Linked DNA regions of Homo sapiens. The protein of the gene in region 2 purifies or fractionates together with the protein of the main gene of each other region. This does not show direct contact. Each region holds a gene or a part of one and is shown on either strand. Other genes may lie near its edges.

The links. Proteins that work in one complex are often made in the same cells at the same time.
Region 1: the proteins of NAPG (region 2) and NBAS purify together in Homo sapiens (affinity purification with mass spectrometry; 3 studies listed by BioGRID and IntAct, with this or other methods). This does not show direct contact.
Region 3: the proteins of NAPG (region 2) and VTI1A purify together in Homo sapiens (affinity purification with mass spectrometry; 2 studies listed by BioGRID and IntAct, with this or other methods). This does not show direct contact.
Region 4: the proteins of NAPG (region 2) and SCFD2 purify together in Homo sapiens (affinity purification with mass spectrometry; 3 studies listed by BioGRID and IntAct, with this or other methods). This does not show direct contact.

Annotation. Positions count from the first base shown.
Region 1 is NC_000002.12:15,274,835-15,278,334, forward strand, and holds part of NBAS (NBAS subunit of NRZ tethering complex), read right to left. Parts: intron 2,268-3,500; coding exon 2,017-2,267; intron 985-2,016; coding exon 650-984; intron 1-649. UniProt on the Homo sapiens protein: Involved in Golgi-to-endoplasmic reticulum (ER) retrograde transport; the function is proposed to depend on its association in the NRZ complex which is believed to play a role in SNARE assembly at the ER. Required for normal embryonic development.
Region 2 is NC_000018.10:10,546,527-10,550,026, forward strand, and holds part of NAPG (gamma-soluble NSF attachment protein), read left to right. Parts: intron 1-1,772; coding exon 1,773-1,852; intron 1,853-2,440; coding exon 2,441-2,570; intron 2,571-3,500. UniProt on the Homo sapiens protein: Required for vesicular transport between the endoplasmic reticulum and the Golgi apparatus.
Region 3 is NC_000010.11:112,814,215-112,816,729, reverse strand, and holds part of VTI1A (vesicle transport through interaction with t-SNAREs homolog 1A), read right to left. Parts: intron 1,441-2,515; coding exon 1,347-1,440; 3' UTR 1-1,346. UniProt on the Homo sapiens protein: V-SNARE that mediates vesicle transport pathways through interactions with t-SNAREs on the target membrane. These interactions are proposed to mediate aspects of the specificity of vesicle trafficking and to promote fusion of the lipid bilayers.
Region 4 is NC_000004.12:52,873,062-52,876,561, forward strand, and holds part of SCFD2 (sec1 family domain-containing protein 2), read right to left. Parts: intron 1,001-3,500; coding exon 908-1,000; 3' UTR 1-907. UniProt on the Homo sapiens protein: May be involved in protein transport.

The DNA.
Region 1 (3,500 bases), on a different chromosome or scaffold from region 2:
GCTCACTCCAACCTCCGTTTCGTAGGTTCAAGCAATTCTCCTGCCTCAGCCTCCCGAGTAGCTGGGACTACAGGTGCATACCACCACACCCAGGTAATTTTTTTTTTTTTGGTTTTTTTTTTTCTTCTAGTAGAGATGGGATTTCACCATATTGGCCAGGCTGGTCTCAAACTCCTGATCTCAGGTAATCTGCCTGCCTTGGCCTCCCAAAGTGCTGGGATTACAGGCTTGAGCCGCTATGCCCGGCCAATAACTTTTTTAAAGACTCAGGCTAACCCAAGCTAAGTTGTTAGCCTGGTTTCCGAATGCAGGTAATCTGGGCTGGGCACTGGAGCTCCTTTACATTTGTCAACTGGAAAGAACAGAATGGCATATTTACTATAAAGTGACATGAGAACTGTAACATGTACTAAGTATACGTGTAAATGAGAATAGTCATCTCTATTTTAGCATATTTGTACATCTACAATAGAGAAAAAAAATTTCCTAATTAAAACACCTCATTCACAGCAAATGAACAAAAACTTTTTAAAAAGCCAACATGTAATTATTTTCAAGAAAGGAAACAAAAATAAAATCTACAGAATGTAGGAGAAATTTTCATTTCTTCTACTGTGCTCAAACCACTTTAAAATATCTTTTTGTTTACCTTGGTCACAGCTTTTGGAGAAAATGTAACTGCATCTACCACAGTGATGAGGTCACCTGGGTGGAGACGATCAAAGTACTTCATGCAGACATCATAGGCATGAAGCCACTCCGGTGAAGAGCCTGGGACTTGTTTAATGAGATGAGGGTCTCCAGTCCAGAACAACTTCTGTAACCAGATGGTGTACAGAGAGCTTGGGGAAAGCATCTGTCCATCCTTTTCAGGGATTTTGGGAACAAGTTTGGAAATAGACAAGATATTTTGACTTGAAAGAACTGGCTCCAATGCTTCAAGAGGACTCATGTTTTCATCTGTCAGCTTTTTGTAATTAAGACCTAGCAGAAAAAAAAAGAAAGTAGGTAAGTGGTTCATTCCAATGTAAACATAGAGTCACTTTCAAACACACACACATAGCCCTCTATATGTCTGAACGCAAAGATCTATCAACTTAGCTCTAAGTAGCTAGTTTATATTTTCTATTAGAAAGATCAGGAGATCTGAGTTCCAGTCACAGCCTGAAACTTATTCGGCTTTGTGATCCCAGATAGGCCATTCATCTTCTGTGTGCCTCCATCTCCTTGTTTGTACCCTAGAGATGACAATATCTCCATGCCTTTCGAATCCGCCGCAGCACCTATGTTTTCTTCTATCAGTGCTTCAACAAACTGCATTACATTTCTTTGTTATTTATCTGGCATTTCACTAGTTACTTGAAGGCAAGGATTGAATCTTATTCCCTTATCCTCTGTGTCTAGGCCAGTGTCTCATTTGATTATTCAGAAAACAACTGATAAACTGATGGGAACTCTCACAATTATTATGAATATCAAACAAACAGATTTGAATGTGCCTTGCAAATTATGAAGTATAAAAATTAAGAGGTCTTAAAGTGTTTAATTTCTTAGTTATGAGCATAAAGACCATTCTAAAGATTTCCATAATTTATCAAATATTCAAAGGCTCTTAAGTGTTCCATGCATATTTTAAACATATAGGCTCCAGTGGAATGAAATTCTGCTCAACTGCCTATTATAAAGTGTCTTGGCCTTGCCATTTATATACATAAAATATAATCAATGGGAGTAGTGAAAAAATCCTGGAGCAGAAGTCCAAAACTTTGGATTTTAGTACCAAGTCTACCATAAGTCACTGTGCGACTTTCAATAGGTTTCTTACTTTTTCTGGTATTTAATTCCCTCAACTATAAGTGAAAGAGTTGGAAAGATAATAACTAAAGTCGATTAGCTTCAAAATTCTGTGGTTTCAGAGCTCTGCAACCATAATGCATGAACAGGATTGTGTACAGAAAATTAATCCCCAGATTTAATTGAAAAGAATGAATTCAAGCAGGGAAACAACCATCCTACCTGATGCAACAACCTTAAACTTCTTCAGCAGTCGAATGTGGGTTTCTGGTTTAATGGCACAGTTCCCCAAATCTGCACAGCCACAGTTTTCCAGAAGAGTGAAATAATACTGCAGCCTTTCGTGATCAAAGCCACCAATAGTAGGGTAAATATACTTGACCATGTGCTGGTGAAAGGCTTCTGGATCAGTCTTCAAAGTCTCAAAGAGATGAAGGTCTTGGGCTCTATTTTCAATTTCTAGTGTGGACAAACTGAAATTAAGAGCCAAAGGAACTGTGTTAAGATTTTGTTCCTTTATTAAAGTGATTTTTTTTTTAACCAAGGAAGAAACACTACTTCTTATAGCTCCCTTCTTCCTGCCTACTCAAAGACAGTAAACCACCACCAGAAGCCAGTCAGCCTGAATAAAGGAAAACAAATGTGTTAGATGCCTACTAACATTTAACTGACTACACACTCGTCATGTTATCTCACGGGGGTCTACAGCAACCCTGTGAAGTAGCTTTAACTTCAAGTTCCTGCAGTTGGGAGAGCTGTCTGATGTCTCCCAGCTAGAAAATAAACCAACATCTGTCAGCGTCCACTCTTAATCATTTATTCATTCATAAAAAGGGTTTAAAAATCTATACTTCTTCACAGAAACATAAACAGCCTTATTATTTCAGGAATTTAGGAAATGATACAGAAAAAACCCTAAACTTTCAGGCTTAAGATTTACATGCAAGAGTCTTGAATTAATATTCAATAAACCCAAATTTTATGCTGTGTCCAGATAAAAGAAAAATAGAAAAAGAGGGATAATTAAACTTTCACTTGGGTTATCTGCAGTAATGCTACTTAAATAAAACACATATCTTAATATTTTCATCCTAACTTAGATGTCTTTGTAATCTAATTTTAAAAAGTCACTTAAACTCTTGGGAAAAGAAAAAGTAAGGTATTTTTGCTTGGTTGATTGGTTTGTGCTTTTAGAAGGGGAAAGGAGGGGGTTAATTTTGGTCTTGTGCTTCTCCCTGGACAGAATCTGGACAGAGCCTGTGGTCTAGTGTAATCTCAATGCCCCTTACGTGATGAGTTTCATACTCCCTAATTGTAAGAGTCCTTCAGGCAGCCCTGCATTCACAGAAGTACCCAGGTTCTAGGGTTCTCGGAAGCAGCAACAGAAGCATCTGGGGGCAGTAAGTGAGACCTTGGGCAGCAACAAAGTTAGGCTTCAAAAAGTTCTAAAGCAGCTCCTCTGAAACATGACAACTTGTTTACTGAAAGTGCCCAAAGACATGTTTTTGGTTTATGTAGATAAAGTTAGTATAAATCATGTTTTAAAACTTTCAGGGGAATGTGACAACACTTGGGTTAAAAAGGGTAATCTACAAAGTCAAAGCATCAAGTAATTTTTAAAAACTGGTCTTTTTACTTTTGCTTCAAGAAAAACCTTATTTTTCCATTAAGACACAGTGCAAACATTTACAAGAATATCTCTATCT
Region 2 (3,500 bases):
GCCTCTATTTTTGACCAAGATAGAGTAAGCCCACTACAGCTTGTTTCTCTGCTGATTACAGCTAAACTACTGGATAAAATACAAAAGCAACCACCCTTGAACTCTGAAAAGTAAATAAAAAGAGACTAAGGAGAGGAGCAAACACGTGGAGAAACAACCACCATGGGAATGAGTTTCTCGGGTTTTTTTCCATTTCCTCTTGCAGCATTCATTGCCCTGCCCTGAGAGAAGCCCACAGTTGTGGAGCTGGGCAGCAAAGGCTGCAACAATGAAAACTCCAAAAGAAACCCCGCCTTTCTAACCAGCAATGGGAGAAGAGGTCCCATTGTTTTCCTCTCCTTTGGCTTTGCTCCAAGCTTGTCCCAGGCATGGAGCTACACTGTGATGATGGCTCAGGTTGATAAAACTCCACAAGGACCCCAGTCTCTTTTGCCAGAGGAACTAGGAAAATGAGCTAGAGAGCAAGGAGAAAATTCCGGAAAGGAGAGAGCTGGAAACGGAGTCCCCTGAGTGTGGATGTGGCCCACACAAGTCTTGGGTTTACTCTTCAGCTGTGCTGAGACAGGCCTCAAAGTAGCAGTGCAGCGCAAAGCTTGGAGAGCTAAGATTTCATCACTGTCGAAGTGTTGCACTGCCCTCTGAAGGGCTTATGCATGGAACAGGCCCAAAGCCACATAGCAAAGGATTTGAATTAAGTGTAGAACTTCCATCCACCAAAAACAAGGCACCACATGTAGTCTGAACCTAACTGGGGTGATTACCTGCTGAAAACATCTGTACTCTCCTGAAAATTAAGCAGAGGCTGTGCAGCATCACATTCACAGTACAATCCAGAATTACTCAACATGCAAGAACCTGGAAATATGACCAGTTTTCAGGAGAAAAGACAACTGATGGCAACCCGGCAGTGACCAGGGTTGTTGGCATTATCACATAAAGACTGAAGCAACTATAAGTTGCTCCATGAGGTAAAGATAAACACAATTAAAATGAATAGAAAAGAGGACCTGTTGTTTTTTATAGGAAAAATTATTTTTATAGAAACTATAAAAATGAACTAATTGGGAATTTTAGGACTGGCAAATACATTATTGAAGTAAAATAATTGGATAAGCTTAATCTCAGAGATGACAGAAGGAAGACTTTGTGAACTTAAAGATAGATCAGTAAAAGTTACCTAAACAATAGAGACACCAAAAGATGGAAAAATACTTCATGAAGACCTATTTTTCCAGTAATTTATCAGTCATATCCTTGATCTTATTACTACTTTTATTGTTGACTTATCAATACTATCATTGTTTCTGTTATCTGAAGTTTTCACTCATACATCTTTTTCCTAGTTTCTTTTTAAGGATTCTAAGTATCATTGTGGTGTTACGGGTCCCCCCCACTTCTTTTTTATTCACTTTTCAAGATTGAATCTGTGTAGATATTTGAAAGAGATCTCTTTAAAACGTGGTTGTGATCTAAGGCTTGTGTCAAAGTGCGGTCCCCAGACCAGCAGCAGGAGTGCCCCCTGGAATTTGTTAGAAATGGGTGAATCCCAGGCTTGCCCCTAGCAGCCAAATTCCAGGACATGAGAATTGGAAAAGTACTGTTCTAGGATATTTCCCCTCAGGTGTCCCGTGGAAGTTACTATAGCATTTATAAATCTCTGTTTATACAAACAAAGACTCTGAAAGTTAAACTCCAGGTGTTTTCAATACTGCCAGGTTATTGACTTTATTAAACAGATGTAAATTTGACCATGATCCTCTCTTTTGTTTTAGAAAACAATTGCTCAAGTCTTAGTTCATCTACACAGAAATGACTATGTAGCTGCAGAAAGATGTGTCCGGGAGAGCTATAGGTAAGACGTTGTCTGGGCCCTCTTGACTTGCAGTGGCGACACCTCTGTGTCTACAACTAAGATTGCTGCTAGGACACATGTTCCTGGCCATGAAACTGTCATTTCTAAATCTTAGGAGTGCTCATCTACCATTTCATCTTTTACAGTGGGTGTTTTACACCTTTTTTTTTTTTCCCTTTCCTGTATTTTTCTCTAGGGGACCTCCATGGAAGTGAATGACTTTAGTCATTTTAGTCATTTTATTTGCCTTCTAAGAAAAAAAGAACAAGAAAAAGGGGGAAAAAATTATCAGATTTATGTTACAGAAATCAAAATGAGGAATTTTCTCGGTGTTTAACATGAGCAGTCTTAATCTCAACACTGTTAACATTTGGGCTGGATAATTCTTTGTGGTCGGGCCTGTCCTGTGCACTGTAGGCTGGTTAGCGGGATCCCCGGTCTCTGCCCTCTAGATGCCACTAGCATTCCCACACTTTTAAGTACCAAAATGTCTCCAGACAGTGTCACATGCCAGGGGCAGAATCATCCCTGCCTGAGATGTGTTCTTTTAAGGAGAAGGTGAAGACGTGTGATTTGTGCTTACTGCAGCATCCCTGGGTTCAATGGCAGTGAAGACTGTGCTGCCCTGGAACAGCTTCTTGAAGGTTATGACCAGCAAGACCAAGATCAGGTGTCAGATGTCTGCAACTCACCGCTTTTCAAGTACATGGACAATGATGTAAGTGGACCCATTTGCATAGCTTTCATCTTTTCTCTTGAAAGAAAGAGGTTTCTAGTGAGATTATTTTTTACCCATGTACTTAAGAGATTTTTTCCTACCTCTTTTTTTCTTCTCAAGCTACTACTCATAAGGAAACTGACCACTTGCATTGAATTTCACCATAGATTTAGATAAAATAGATGTTAGTTGTGTGGTGTATAGCCATTTACTCACCCATCTAACTCTGTTGACCATATACATATTTTAAAATTGAGGCTCATTTCTCCACTTTTCCTCTATCTGTTGTCCTCTGTAGGTTGCTTTTATTCATTTCTTTTAGACGGACTCTCTGAAAGAGGTCCATTCTGTAGTGGCCTTTGTAATTCAGTAGACCTATGAAAATCTGTGAGGACTAGCTGTGTGTTGCAGGTCATTAATTATCTCTAAGCCTCAGTTAATTCATTTGTAAAAATGAAGCCACTAGTACCTGTCTTGCTGGACTGTTGTGAAGAATACATTAGTCAGTGTGTGAGAAATATCCTCACATGATGTCTTGCACATAAAGTGAACCATGACTATAAGTTTTTATTTTTTCTCATTTGTCTTTTTCAGTAGATTTGTAAGTACCTGTTTGGCCTTAGGCCTTTAGAGTATCATCATAGTATCAGATCAACTTAAGGCCTTCAGTTGTTTATTATAATGATATATGTAGATAATTTTTTTTCTAAATAACGTCTTACATAGGTTTTGAAAATATATATATTTCTAAAGTTTTAATTAAAAAAAATTTATAATTGAAACTTTTACTAGTTGTGTACCTGTCCCACCATGGTCATGAGGCATCTGGGGAGCAGCATTGTTGGGCTTTGTTTTTCCATCTGAATGGTAGAATTGGTGTTCCTGAGGGTGGGGAGCCAGGCTGTGTCTTTTTAGAGCTGAGTAAAACAT
Region 3 (2,515 bases), on a different chromosome or scaffold from region 2:
AGGATTCAAAGCTTCTAATTATATTCCAAAGATAGTACGGACCAGTAAGTGCCTATGAAGTCTTGAGAAAAACATTCTGCTTTGTGACTGGGGGGAAACGACCTCAGCTTGGGCAACTTTTAAGCCTGATCACAAATGAGCTCATTTTGAACGCAATTCCTGGTTACCTCAGACAGAAAGAAATGAAAGAAAAAAATCACAAAGCATATTAGAAGTTTGAATACATAGTGAATTCAAGAAAGGCTTGCTAACATTTGTTAGTTAAAAACCCAAGCCATTCCTTTTGGAACAATCTGCCATCCTCTATTCTTTTAAAGGAGGTTAGGGAACGTTTTCCGTGAAGTTTATCTCTGGTGGACCCTCCTATAGGACTCTCCCATATTTATAATCACATTTGAAATTTCACACTGATGGAGTCATGTTCTTGCTCTTACTGAAATATTCATGGTCTCTTTACATACTGGAATGTATGTGGAGAGAACCTTGTCAGACCTTTTGCAAGTATGAGGACTGCTTTTGGCAGTGCAGATATTAAAACCGAAAGGATACAGAGATGCTTACACAGGTCAGGGAAGACGAGGTCACAATTAAATCCTGTACCAGGGCTCACTTTGCCAGCAGATTCTGGGGAGTATGGGATTTGGGGAAGGCAAGAAAATATTTCTTGTAGCCAGTAATCAAAGTTGTGAACAGTGAATACTGGGCAGGCTCAGCAAAAAAAATATCTTTGGGTTAAAAAAAAAATTATGCAATAGAAAAACAGGGAAAGTGCTAAGTCAATTTCCTGTACAACCGACATTAAATACCGACCTTTACAATGAAAGCACTCAGGCAGGTTGATGACTATATTCATGAGGCCTGTGTAGGAACAGGGCTGGCTTGCTGGACGGGGTCACTGACTCCATCCCCTGCTTTTTGCTGCATTTTTATCCTCAGACATCACAGAAGAGCTTTTCAGCAACAAGAGGCGGGTGACAAACAGAAGCTCTCGTGACTGACTCATCATGTCCTCTCCCAAACCACGGCCCTTGACACGTCCAGAGGGCTAGGAGTGTCACTGGGGCTATTTTGGCTAGTTGATGACATTAGCAAAAAGGTAAATAAACATTCACCTTCCCCTCTAAAAAACGAATCTGGGTGAAGACAAACCTCGAAAAGGAAACCAACCCACATGCAAACAGGAATAGAAAATATTTTTACACTCTTTGCACTTCAGCCCAACGGCGGTGAGGGAGAGAGAGGGTCACCTGGGGCCTGTCAGCGCAACAGAATGATTCATGTGACCATTTTGTCTTAATTACTCAGAACAAGCTGTTGTTGCTGTTTATCAAGGGAGAGCAGATACATCAGTGTCTTCTGACAGAAAAAGTGATCGCCATCAGGATGGTGATGACCACGATGATCCCTAGGATGACGAGCAGGATGCGGTTCTGGATGATTCTAGGAGACAGCAAAGGAGAAAAAACACACACAGATAAGTGGAAGGCCTTCCCACAAACGCCGTCCGAGGCCAGGTTGGCTAATCAAACGGCAGCTTTGCAGGTGGGGGTGGGGAGCGTGTGTGTGTGTGTGTGTGTGTGTGTGTGTGTGCGCGCGCGAAAGAGACATCACGCAGCTTTCTGGTTCTACAAACGATCCACGAGGAAACGAAAGGCTCCACATGATTGTCACGCTGCCCTCCGAGAAATGCTTACTGCAAAGCTAAGGCGAATCAAATGGCTTTCGAGGCTCAGAAAATCATGTAGCCTCTTTAAGTGATCAAGGGCCCCTTGCGAGCTTCTCTTTCTAATTTAAAAGGCGAGACAAGCCTCATTTTTTGCAGTGTTTCCTGTTAAAGTAAAATACTCCAAGGAAACACATGTCAGCAATGTACTTACCTGCACAAAAATACCTGGGGAAAAGTAAAACAGAGACTAAGGAAGAAAAGGATGGGATTAAGAAACAAGTGTCAAATGTGCAGCTTAGGCTGTGAAACCATCATCTGTCAGTGTGGCTCACGCTCCGTTACGCTAGGAGGAAACGTTACATTTGCTCCATAGCAAAAAAGATGGAAATGAGAAATATACAATGTACTCAAGGTGCCTGTTGTGCGTCTGTTGCTGGGCCTTTACCTCCAGGGATTCTACCTCCCTGGGTTCTGGCTGGGCTGCACGCTGATGGGGAACCAGCAACTTAGAAGGGGGACCAGAGTGGAGACACACGCTCCCAGATGCCTGCAGAGAGCTTCTGATGAGGTTGTTTCATAATTTGTTACCTCATTCGGAGAAAAGAGGTCGAACATCAGAATGCTTTGTTGAGAGTTTCAAAGGGAACCTAGGTCAAACAGCCGTGCCCACGCTCGCTCTCACAGAGCTGCACGGAAATAGAGACATGAGCTGGCTGGCAGTCTAGCCAGCTATCTGTCCAGCTTAAAACCCCACGGCAAACCCCATCCAACCCTCCTCCAAATACCAAGCAGCAAAAGGCCTGCTGCCCTACTCCAGTCACCAAACACTGGACATGGGTCTTCCATGGG
Region 4 (3,500 bases), on a different chromosome or scaffold from region 2:
AGTGGTTCGTTTTTGCCCTGGAGTTCTTACAAAGTTTCACTAGGTGGGTCTAGGTTTTTCTGCTATGGTCAGATGGAAAACTTAAACTTACAGAAAAGAAAGCTTTATATTTCAATCAAAACTCATACCCACAAAGTCCACAGGGGTTGCTGTTACAATTTAGACTCCCTGGGACCAGGTATCTTGTACTGGAGTCTTTCTTTGGAGGGGAGAAAACCTTTTATATACAGATAACCCTCCAATCAACCACCTTCCCACTACAGTTCCAAGTAGCCTGGCAGACCTGCCCAGTGGGCCAGCTAGAACAATGCAGTCCTTTGTTATGGCAGGATGATTTACAACACATGCAGGCTACCAGCACTGCCCCAGACACTACCCCTCCCTTCCTTGCCTTTTCAGAAATGTTTCAGAGCAAGAGAGAAACAAAGCCTCAGACCCTATTTGCAATGTTCCCTCCTCAGTTATATAATCCTAAGGAACATCAAATTTTCCCCACACTCATAATTCTAAAGCATGTCTAACTTCTCGAGCAACTTCAAATAAAAAGAGTTGTAATCTACCAACACTTGCCAACAGGCTTTTATTTAGAACTAATGAACTTGTAGGTGGAATCAGGAAGATCACAAACAGAGGGTTAAGGATAAATGGAAACGATCACTAATTGGACTCGCCAAAAGACAGACTGTCGCCTTCAGGAAAATAAAAAAACTTTTTTTTTTTTTTTTTAAGAATCACAGCAATCCAAGCAAAGTACCTCACTGAGTAGGTATCAAGACCCTTCAGGCAGAATTCCATCATTCTCGCAATTAGTGACAGGGACGCTGGTTGTGGAGGAGTATTTGGAGTGGTGGCAGAAAATTGCATCGGCATTTCCAGCTTGAGTAGGTCTTATCTTCTTAGCGGATGCTCAGAAGCCAAGGTCTGGATGCAGTCGGTCAGTTGCAAATAACAGCTCAGGAATGTTAAGTGGCTTCAGGAGTCGTGTGGACAGCACGATTACCTAACAACAGGAGAGGGCAAACACACCGCAGGGAATTAGGGGGGCCAATCTCAGGGTATTGGATGATGAGAAATAGAATGCAACAAATGTCTTTGGGGGAGGGCATGAAGTGAAGTTCTAGGAAGGAAAAGTAGAAGGCAGCCAGCTGAATGGCACCTGGCGCTAGTGCCCTGCCTGGAAGGAGGGGGGCACAGTCTGGGACAGATGGCCTGTGGGACAGCCGGGCTGTGTCTACTGAACCTTTAGCCAATGGGGCACTCAGGATGGCTGAGACTGGCACTAGGTACATTTGACAGGCAGAGCCCAGCCACTACCTTGCTGCTAAATTGAACTGGATCATATTCTTGCTTTGTAATGCAGTAATTTGACGTCAATATCAAGGTTTCTCCCCATTTCAGGGAGCCTTTGCTCCTCCAGGGAGCATGAGAAGGCACATCCAGGAGGTGGATGTTGTTAGTGATGATGGTGATTGTTAGTTTCCTAGTACCACAAACTGGGTGGCTTAAACAATGGAAACTTACTGTCTCATAGTTCTGGAGCCTAGAAGTCCAAGATCAAGGTGTTGGCAGGGTTGGCACCTTCTAAGGGCTGCGAGGGAATCTGTTCCATGCCTTTCTCCTAGCTACCTTGTGCCTTCACATTGTCTCTCCCTATGCATGTCTGTTGCTGTGTCCAAATTTCCCCTTCTTATATACATACAGTCACACTGGATTAGAGCCCACACTAAAGACCCTATTTTAACTTGATCATCTGCAAAGATCCTATTTCCAGTAAGGTCATATTCACAGATACCAGTGGGGAGGTTAGGACTGCAAGACATTTTAAAGGGGACACATTTCAACTCATAACGATGATGGGAATGATAGTGATAACTAATACTTGTTAATTTCTATGATGTGCCAGGTTCTGAGGATTATCTCATTGAATATCCATTTGATCCTGATATTGAGCTTATGAAATAGATACGTTTATTTTTCCTGCTTTGTAGATGAAGAAAATAAAGTACAGAAAGGCTCAGCAACTTGTACAAGGACACACATACAGTCAGCGGCTGAGTCAGGATCCCAGCGCAGACAGGCTGGCCCCAGTGCCCCCGTGCCTCCCTTCCCTGTCATCAAGGGCTCTGGGCCCTTTACTCCCTTACTCCACATGCACCTTTGGGCTCCTCTGGCTTCTTTCATGGTGACCCTTTCTGCTTCCCTCAGTCTGGATTTTATTCCAGGACAGATTTATCTCTGCAAAGGTGGGAGAGCCTATTCCCTGGGTCTGGGCTGGGGGCGTGATGTGCTTTGCAAGGGCCTGGTTAGGTTTTGCACAAGCAGTATTGTATGCACCCTAGAAGAAGAGGTGACTATGGGAAAAGCTGTCCTAGAGCCTGAATTCCACAGCCCACATCCCTTGGAAGGGGATTCCAAGGCCCACAGCATGACTACATGGCTACGCTCCTTTGGAGTGGTGCAAGTGGGCCCACACACTTTACTATCCTCCTTGCCCACTCCCAAAATTGTCCCAGGTATAATTAAATTAGTGAATTAACCAACCCCAAGTCCACGAGCTCATTGATGGAAAACAAAAAGTCTATACTCCAATGAAGAGAAAAAGTAGAAGAGGAAGAGAGAAGGAAGTATTTCTTGTTGTTAAAGAAAGAATTTTTCAACAACCTTATGAGAAAGTTTTCTGTTTAAAAAACTTAGTCTTTGGAAGCATCTATGTTACTTCTTGAAAGAGGATTATCTTTAACTATATATATATATATATATATATATATATATATATATATATATATATATATATAGTTAATGTCAGCCAAGTCATATTTTTGGCAGAAACAAATTCACTGAAATCTGTGTTTCACGATTTTCCTTGAAAATCATGCAAGGAGCCTTTGAGGACAGTGGGTGAAGATTGGCCTTCTCTATCATCTGCATGCATGATTTAGACACCGTTTGAATGTGTGTCTCCCGAGAGGGTCTCTACGTCTTTCAGGTCTTCCTCACCAAACCTAGTAGGTAATTGAGCCTGGCGGCTTCCAGGCGAGTGCCATCAGCAGACCCTGAGGAGATCCCAGCTCCACACTGACTGGCCAGATGCCTCCAGAAAGTCACAACTTACAGCCTTGCTCACCTCATCTCTCTCAGAAGGAAAATAACAGTGCCAAGCTTGAGGCAGTATGGCAAGGATTACATAAGATCGTGTATGTGGAGCACAGGAAGTGCTCAGCAACTGTGAGCTGCTGTATTATTGTGGTTTTGTGATTTGGTCCTAGATCTCCTTTTGAATCTTATGAAAGCTAAGAACTTTCTAGAAAAATACACAGACATTCATACAAGATTTTGTGTTATAGTTTTAGGGATGGTTCATGAACTCCTAGGAATTCACAGACCACAATTAAGAAGCCCTTTTTCGAACTGGGTGCGGTGGCTCACTCCTGTAATCCCAGCACTTTGGGAGGCCGATTTGGGTGGATCACCTGAGGTCAGGAGTTCAAGATGAGCCTGGG